Linked DNA regions of Homo sapiens. The protein of the gene in region 1 purifies or fractionates together with the protein of each later gene. This does not show direct contact. Each region holds a gene or a part of one and is shown on either strand. Other genes may lie near its edges.

Region 1 (4,510 bases):
GTTAACAGCATTTCCCCCACTGCGTGATCATCTCCAAGAGGGCACTGTCTACCTCCTTTGGTGTTGAACTCCTAGCGCCTAGCAAGTTTCTGGTACTTTACAGGCTCTGGGTAAATTTTTTGCCGGCTCGGGGCAACTATATTTAATTTTTTTTTTTTGAGACGGAGTCTCACTCCGTCGCCAGGCTGGAGTGCAGTGGCGTGATCTTGGCTCACTGCAACCTCTGCCTCTCGAGTTCAAGCGATTCTCCTGCCTCAGCCTCCAGAGTAGCTGGGACTAGAGGTGCTGGCCACCACACCCAGCTAATTTTTTTTTTTTTTTTTTTTTTTAGATGGAGTTTTGCTCTTGTTGCTCAGGCCTGGAGTGCAATGGCATGATCTTGGCTCACTATAACCTCCACCTCCTGGATTCAAGCAATTCTCCTGGCTCAGCCTCCCGAGTAGCTGGGATCACAGGCACGTGCCACCACGCCTGGCTAATTTTGTATTTTTAGTAGAGACGAGGTTTCTCCATTTTGGTCAGGCTGTTCTCAAACTCCCGACCTCAGGTGATCTGCCCACCTCAGCCTCCCAAAGTGCTGGGATTACAGGTGTGAGTCACCACGCCCAGCCACGCCCAGCTAATTTTGTCTTTTTAGTAGAGACGGAGTTTTACCATGTTGGCCAGGATGGTCTCAGTCTCTTGACCTCGTGATCCGCCCGCCTAGGCTGCCCAAAGTGCTAGGATTATAGGTGTGAGCCACTGTGCCCAGGTTTTTTGTTTTGTTTTGTTTAGACACGGGGTCTCACTATGTTGACCAGGCTGGTCTTGAACTCCTGGGCTCAAGCAATCCTTCCACCTTGACTTCCCAAAGTGCTGGGATTACAGGCATGAGCCATGGCACCCAGCTGAAGGCCAGTCAATTTAAAAACCATGTCTTGTAAAACATGTGTATGTAAAAGCATGGAAATGGTCTGGAAGGAATGAGGCCAAGCATCTAATCTTGTTTACTCCTGGTGGTTGGGGAAGGAACCAGGATAGGAAATGGTGATGGGGCATGTATGTGGACATGTGCACATGTAAGCTAAGAGACTCTGGCTTCAACTGTAATAATTTTCCTTTTTTTTTTTAGATGGATTTTTGCTCTTGATGCCAAGGCTGGAGTGCAATGGCACAATCTTGGCTCACTGCAACCTCTGCCTCCCCGGTTCAAGTGATTCTCCTGTCTCAGCCTCCCGAGTAGCTGGGATTACAGGCGTCTGCCACCACACCCGGCTAATTTTTTTTTTTTTTTGTATTTTTAGTAGAGACAGGTTTTCACCATGTCGGTCAGGCTGGTCTCGAACTCCTAACCTCAGGTGATCCACCCACCTTGGCCTCCCAAAGTGTTGGGATTACAGGCATGAGCCACTGCAGTCGGCCAATTTTACTTTTTAAAAAGATAATATATTCATAGGTTCATTGTGTAATGAAAAATTAACAAACAATAATAACCAAGTAAGACATGGCCTGTCTAAGGAGACAAACGGGATGGAGCATCCAAGCCAAACGCAGAATGAAGAACAAAGAAACACGGTGACACACTTGCAATCGCTGGTGGGTTCTGAGTCTTCACTTTATTACTATGTCACCAGAAGTCACCACCTTCACTTGGTTCACCACAGATGGATGGATGTCATAAAGGAGGGTGCCACGGGGCCACTGGATTCACTCGAGACTTAACCAGGTGGTGGGGGGGTCTAGAGTGGGGGCCCAGGATGGGGACCGCCCTTCACCGCACACACACGCACACACACACACAGATATATTTGTGGAGCCTTATATTATACATCTTATATATAGAAAATATATATATTTATACTATACACAGGCAGTAACGCTGCGGGAGGGGCCGGGGCACCGACAAGGGCTGTGCGCACCAGGACATGGGGAGTGTCAGGTCAAGTGCATCGCTGGGAGGCAGCCGGCCCAGTCCCTTCTCCCATAAACTCCTGGGAGGGGCATTCCCCCTTTCGTGCTCCTTAGAGAATCAAAGGGGTCTTGGGCCAAGGTTAGGGGTCTCCCAGGGCTAACAGGCAGGGTGTCTCAGTTACATGGGGAAACCTGGGATCCCCGAGGCTTTGAAGATCAAGAATCACCAGGGAAGGATGGAGTAGGGAACTAACGTCAGTCCCCTGGGAATTAGCCCCTCAACTGCGACACCCCCAGGTGGATAGGAGCCGTGCAGGCAGGACAGTCTGTGACTGCCCAGGATGAGCCAACTCAGAAGGCAGAAGACCTGACTCCTGAACCTCTCCCTCTGTGCTTGACCTTGGACAAGTCGCTGTCTCCCTACCCCAGACTCTGCCGACTCTAAGCGTCCTTGCGACTCTACACTTATGTGAAACCTTTTTTCCTGGGCCCTCTCTTGTGCTTGATGGGGAGGAGGGAGCCACCCTGCAGGGTCCAGCTGCAGGAGGGCCCTTCTCCAAGGAAAGCTTTGGGAGCAAGGGAGAAGTAGGGGAGGGCAGCTGGGAGGAAAAGGGATACCGGACAGAGTTGGGCCTGGGGTTCCCCAGGGGCTGTCCTCTGCCAACAGAAGGAGCGAGTTTCCCCATGAACCTTCCAGGGCAGAGTCAGGAGCCCTGGGTCCCATCCAAATCTCGCCCTCCATCTCTCACCCTCTCTCATCTCCATCCTGGGCAGGTCCCTGCCAGAGCCCAGCCTGATGGGGAAGATCATGCCTGGAAGGGCTTCTGGGCTGAACCCGGGAAGAGTGAGGGATTCTTCGTGAGATGACTCAGCACCCCCCATTCCTGGCAGGAGTCTTGACAGCTTTCCCTGCCTAGGGTGGCAGGCAGGGCCTGTCACAAACACCCAAGATGGAGTTAAGCTTACCTGGTACCCTGCCCTCCGGCTGAGGATCACCAGCAGCTGGCTGGCACCCGAGGAGAAACAGATGGGCAGTACCCTGAGGTCTCCTAGTGCCCATCAGCAGGAGAGGCTTTTGGTGGACAGTGGGTGAGGGTCAGAACATCTCACAGCCTCTTGTGGTGGGCACAGAACTTCACTCTGCCATAAACACTCCTGCCCTCACTCACGCCCTCACCTTTGGCCTGGTACAGGTTTCACTCTTCAGGCCAACAGATAACCTGCCCCCATGCTGGTCCCATGTGGGCCACCTGGCGGCGGGGGACTGTGGACAGAGCCCCTTCTCCGGATTGGAAAATGAAGTCAGCAACAACCAGCTGTCACACAGCTGGCTGGGGTCCTCTCCATCACTGCTGTCCTTTGGGAGGACTTGGACACACCTGAGTTTAGATCCGTGTTCCACTGCCAACTCGCCTATGCTTGCCGAGCCTCAGTTTCCCTTCTGTTAAATGGGGATAATGGTGCTACTTCTCTGCTTAGGACTTCCTCCTCTTTCCCTTAACTCTGGCCCAGCTTTGGGGCCATCGAAGCAGGGACCACCCATGCCCTTGGTATCTCCAGCACAGGGGCCGGGTAACTGCTGAGTGAGTAAGCAGGTGAGGGATCGCCTGCCTCTTAGGATTCTTAGATGGGGGATGGGGGGATGGTGGTGAAAACACCCAGCACTGGGCCCGTCCACCACCTGCTCTGCTCTGCTCCCTGAAGGACAGGCCAGTGGACACTGGGTGGACAGGGGGATGGGCCCCCAGCGCTCTCCCATACCTCCCTGTCCCTTATGGCTCAGTGAAGAGCCCACCTTGTGCAAGAATCGACCTGCCCCCACTCAGAAGAGATTATGACCTCCTCAGGCCCCACGGCCCTCTTTGGGCCTTTGGGTCACCTGCCACACTCTCCCCTACAGCCCATGGTCTTCCCTGGGCCTCCCATGCCTCAGGGGCTCTTGCCTGTGTCATCCTGGGGGCAGTGTCTCTCCACGGCCACAGCCCAGGAGCCGACCTGGCTGATTCCAAAGCCCTGTCCTTGCCGCTCTGCCTCCCATAGGGAGGCTGGCTCCACAGTGGGCCTTCTGGAAGGCCAAGGAAACACCTCTCATGCGCTTGGCTGCTGCAGCCCCCGAACCCTGACTGACCCCAGATGAGAGGAGAGGTGACATAGTGTCCCAGATCAGTTCTGTTTCCTGGGAGGTCACAAGGGCAGGGAATCGAGGCACCTGCTGGGCAGCTGGGGCCAAGAAACCCAGGCGTCAGGGCCAGCTTTGCCACTCACTCACCGTGACCTCGGGCCAGTCACACCCTCATCTGTGCCTTGTTGTCCACCCAGCCCTAGGTAAGGGCTTAGTGACCCCTCCTAGAGGCAAGGACAGTGATCAGTCCTTTGAGAGACCACGAAGGGGTTTGCTGGAGCCCCCTGGAACAAGCGTCTGTGGGACACGCAGAGCACAGAGCAGCACCCGGGGTGAGCCCTCTTGGAGGAGGCCAAGGGCCAGGGGTAGGACCAGGGGGATGTGGGTGGAGGGACCCGGAGGTGGGGCTGTCCCCAGGGGAGGAGGAACAGCTGGGGCAGAACAGGCCCTTGGCATGCAGCAGAATCAGGGTGTCTCAAGGGGCTGAGGGCCCCAAGG
Region 2 (4,483 bases), on another chromosome or scaffold:
AGCACACTGTAGTTATAACTTACAAAATTCTCTCCCAAAACTGGGAGAATACAGTCAGAAAAAACAAACAAAAAACTACTATACCAAGCACCATGATAGTACAGAATACTTAGGAGGAGGGAAGTATCACAACCCTCAGAGTAGAGACCTAGCTCTAATTTTTTATAAGGTATATAACTTAGAAGAACCTTACCACTGTCATCAACACCATCAGTTGTTTATAAGACAGTACATTATTCATAAATGTGCTTATAACTCACCGACTGACATGTCACTATTCTGAACTTCATGGTTGTCCAGATGATAAACACAATGGATGCTAACAGTAAATGAAAAACCAGGTCAGAGTATGAATGCTGGTTTACATCCCCAATTACATTCCCCCATTTCCGGTTAAGTGGAATCCCACACACCCCGAACCCCCAAATACATCACAACTCTATCAGTTATTTTAACAAATGTATTCAATACAAAAGGACTGTATACCTGCTATCAGCAAGGCTCATGATACATACTCTGGCCAATCCTTTCTCTATTTAAAGAATAATTTGGTAATAATGTTATTTGCCATCTGGCTACATCAGTAACCAGTGTGGTTGGAAAATAAGGTATTGGAAATATAGCTCTTTCCAGCATTATCAATATAATTTTTTTCTCCTTTTATCCTTAGTATAGTAATGCTAATTTTTCTTTGGCTGGTCAGATGAAAAAAAATGGCTGATAAAACGACTGTAACACAAACAGAAGAGCTAGTTCCAATCATAAATCAGACCTCACTATTCCTGGTACAAGGGTCAGGAGGTAGGCAAATTAGCCTAGTTTGGTTACAGTCCACCTAATGTCAATTTTTTACATATGCTTGCTGACATATGTAAAACCACTATAATAGCAATGCACCCTAAAATTCTACAACTATTTAATAAAACTAAACAAACATGTGGTAATGTCTTCTAAAAGGAGTACTCTCTGGCACTTAAGCTAACTAACCTCAAGAAAAAGAATGCCTCAAGAAAGAATGCAAATAGAAGAGGGATAAATGAAGAGCTGAAATATGAGGTTGATTTCCAGCTACTGTACATAAAATAAATGGTTCTCAACTTTTTAAAAACCACAGATCCTTCTGAGAATTTGACAAGAGCTAAGAACCCTTTTCCAAGTGAAATATACAAAACTTTCTATGTCCACCCATGGCCTTTCAGGTTAAGAATGTCCATTCTAAACAGATCACATTTGAACTCCAAGAAGAAAGTCCCAGACTTACCTGCCACTGCCAAAATAAGCGTGTTGGTGAAATGCCGATACAAAGAGAGTTTTACAATGTTCCTCCGAAGTTTTAATAGCTTCATTGTTTGAGTCAGGCTAATAAATATGTGTTTGCAGGTCAAGGAATTCAACATTCAGGAAAAAACAGTAAGCTAGCCAATTAGTTTTCAGGTTTCTTTAAGGATCTGGGGTCATGCCAATAAACTTATAGATCTCTCAGAGGCCTTATAGCTCTCTTATTCTCACTTAATCTCACAAACACCTCAAGATGAATAAGAAAGTCATCATTTTATTTTCTTTTCCTTTTTTTTTTGTGAGGCAAGGTCTAGCCCAGGCTAGAGTGCAGTGGCACAATCACGGCTCACTGCAGCCTTGACCACTGAAGCTCAAGCGATCCTCCCACCTCAGCCTCCCAAGCAGCTGGGACTACAGGCATGTGCCACCATGCCTGGCTAATTTTTAAATTTTTTTGTAGAGATAAGGTCTCGCTATGTTGCTCAGGCTGGTCTTAAACTCCTGACCTCAACTGATCCTCCTGCCTTGGCCTCCCAAAGTGCTGGCATTACAGGCACGAGCCACCATACCTGGCCGGAAGTCATCATTTTCAATGAGACATTAAAGAGAAGACAGAACCAGAATAAAGTAAGAATGTACAAAATCACAAGAGAAAAAATATAAAAAAGAGAAAGGAAGAGGCTTTCTAGAGAAACAAAAAAAAAAGACAGAAAATAAATAGAGAAATGGCAGAAGATAAAGTGAACATGAGTAACAGGCAAGGGACAAAGAGTTAACATCATCTTCTCTCTCCCTTTAAGGTGGGTAGCTCTGTTCTCATCTGTCCAGCAAATCTAGTTGAGGGTCATAATTATACTCGTGCCTATAATCTCCCAGAGATCTACACTCAGTCCCCTCATGCCATCTTAAGGAACCTGCCATCAGTTGCCTGCACTATCCTGAATTAAGAGGACCTTACAATTGGTTGAGAAGCTCATATGGTTTGCTTCCAAAAGCAATGACTCTCCATTTTCAGAACATTATTCTCAAGTAGAAGTTGCCAGAGAAAAACAGGAGGGGAATTGGTGACTACTAAAAATGGTATCTGCTCTCACGTTCAATGTTCTTTTCTTTTTGAGACAGGGTCTCACTCTGTCACTCAGGCTGGAGTGCAGCGGTGCGATCTCGGCTCACTGCAACCTCCGCTTCCAGGGCTCAAGCAATTCTCCTGCCTCAGGCTCCCGAGCAGCTGGGACTACAGGTGCAAGCCACAATGCCTGATGAATTTTTGTATTTTTTGTAGAGATAGGGCTTCGCCATGTTGCCCAGGCTGGTCTCAAACTCCTGAGCTTAAAGCAATCTGCCCATCTCAGCCTCCCAAAGTGCTGGGGTTACAGGCATGAGCCACTGCACCCGGCTCAATTTTCAGAATGAGAAGCAGATACAAAAATAAGGGATTTGGCACTTGCTCTGCCCTTACAGAGCCGTAGCTGTTACCTAGTCATTGGGTTATCTTACTGTACAATCCATTCCCACCTCCCTCTTCTCTCAACGCTTGCAGAGGTTCACAAAACACTTAGAAAGATACTAATCTAGAAAAGCTTTGGCTATTTAGTCCAAGGACACTTTAACTGAAAACTCTTATACAGCAACCCACTCAAATTCACAAAACAATTTTGTTTACATTCACAGTTTTTCAACAGTCACAATCTATCAGGTCAGTAATAATGAAAACTGCTAATAGGACCAAATATATAAAAACCAAAACAAATTCAATAAGATAAAGTCCAAAAACTTGAATCCTTTAGCCATCAGGCCAAGCCCCTAATATATAAATTTAATTTTAAAGAGCAGGAGAAAAAGATTGCTCAAATAGAAGCTTGTTTGTTATCTGCTGGTTGACTCTGCCTGTAAATGAATCAATTATTTATTCTGAAGGGTGGAAATCTTCAAACAATTCCAAGCCAGCTTTTGAATGAGGCAAGAAAACACTCACTCCATAAGGGTTAAAACCTGCTGAACATACAGAGTTTCAGAAAAGTCAAAGCACCTTACATAGTTCCTGAAATCAAATTTTAAGGATCAAAATCTTTTCATAAGTTTCAAAGCATTTAAGAATTGCTAGAGGCTAAAAGGCAGAGCAGGACCAGCACAGCCAGTGACTCTAACACTAAATGATTAGGTACACAAACAAGAAGTGCAAAATCAAGATGAAATGCTCACTTAAAAGAAAAAAGCCAAAAGATTTTATCTCGAGCTCGGTCCACAGTCACCAATTTCCAATTTGATTTTTAAAATTAAAAAAATAGAAACAAAAAAAACTGCTTACCTGAACCCTCAGGTTGTTAAGACTTAGCATGCACTGTTCCCCACACTAAGGAGTAATTAACAAAACTGATAAAAACTCTTTGCAGAAAGATCAATGGAAACCCATCTCAAGGGGAGAAAATGGACCATCATCAAACAAGCCAATGAGAAGGATATCCACCAGCACAAGGCAGTGTCTAGGAAAGCCAAGGGGATAAAGGCCAAGGAAGCAAGATCAGTCTGGGCCTGCAGACAAAGAAAAAGAAGTGGTGAAAAACAGATGTCTAGAGAGGCACAGAGAAGAAACCACCACATGATTCTGCATTTACATAATCACTGGAAAGTTTTTGCATTGAACTGAAAGAAAATAAAAAGAACATTTGACACCTAATCATTCTTCCCTTCTTATAAACCATCACATAGAATATACAGCTATAAGCATTTCACATAAATTGTCATTTACAATCTCGAAACATACTGCTAAGTACGAGTTTTTCATATATAAAGATCCATGTTAACAAGTGACCATATTCCAAAAAAGTTCTAATGTTTATAAGCCCCATCCTTAATCTATCATTTCCTATTATTGCAATTTTGGCTACAAGTCTGAAAAGACTTTTCTCGTATTTAAAAAAAATTACTGCATCATATACAAAGAATTATTAATTTCTAAAATTATAATATTTTACAAATAAGAGCTCACCCCAAAATAAAATGTAAGGCAATTATCTGTCTGAAAAACTATGCTGCATGTTTCCAGGAGTTTATATAGAGTATGTTTTTTATATAACCCTAATTACCCAATCAACAGGCATTACTGAAAGGATATCCATAAAATAACACAGGCGTCAATTGCTGAGAGGGCCAGGTTTACTATCAGAGTCAAGGGATAAGAAAAATACTATAGCAACAGCAGAAG

The links. The genes of interacting proteins can lie anywhere in the genome.
Region 2: the proteins of SYNGR1 (region 1) and TMEM87A purify together in Homo sapiens (affinity purification with mass spectrometry; one large-scale study listed by BioGRID and IntAct). This does not show direct contact.

Annotation. Positions count from the first base shown.
Region 1 is NC_000022.11:39,382,642-39,387,151, reverse strand, and holds the end of SYNGR1 (synaptogyrin-1), read right to left. Parts: 3' UTR 1,577-4,510; downstream 1-1,576. UniProt on the Homo sapiens protein: May play a role in regulated exocytosis. Modulates the localization of synaptophysin/SYP into synaptic-like microvesicles and may therefore play a role in synaptic-like microvesicle formation and/or maturation.
Region 2 is NC_000015.10:42,227,451-42,231,933, forward strand, and holds part of TMEM87A (transmembrane protein 87A isoform 1 precursor), read right to left. Parts: intron 4,466-4,483; coding exon of another isoform or gene 4,394-4,465; intron 3,811-4,393; coding exon 3,742-3,810; exon of another isoform or gene 3,672-3,741; intron 1,371-3,671; coding exon 1,262-1,370; intron 320-1,261; coding exon 261-319; intron 1-260. UniProt on the Homo sapiens protein: Potential monoatomic ion channel gated by mechanical force, implicated in normal touch sensitivity through the generation of mechanically activated currents.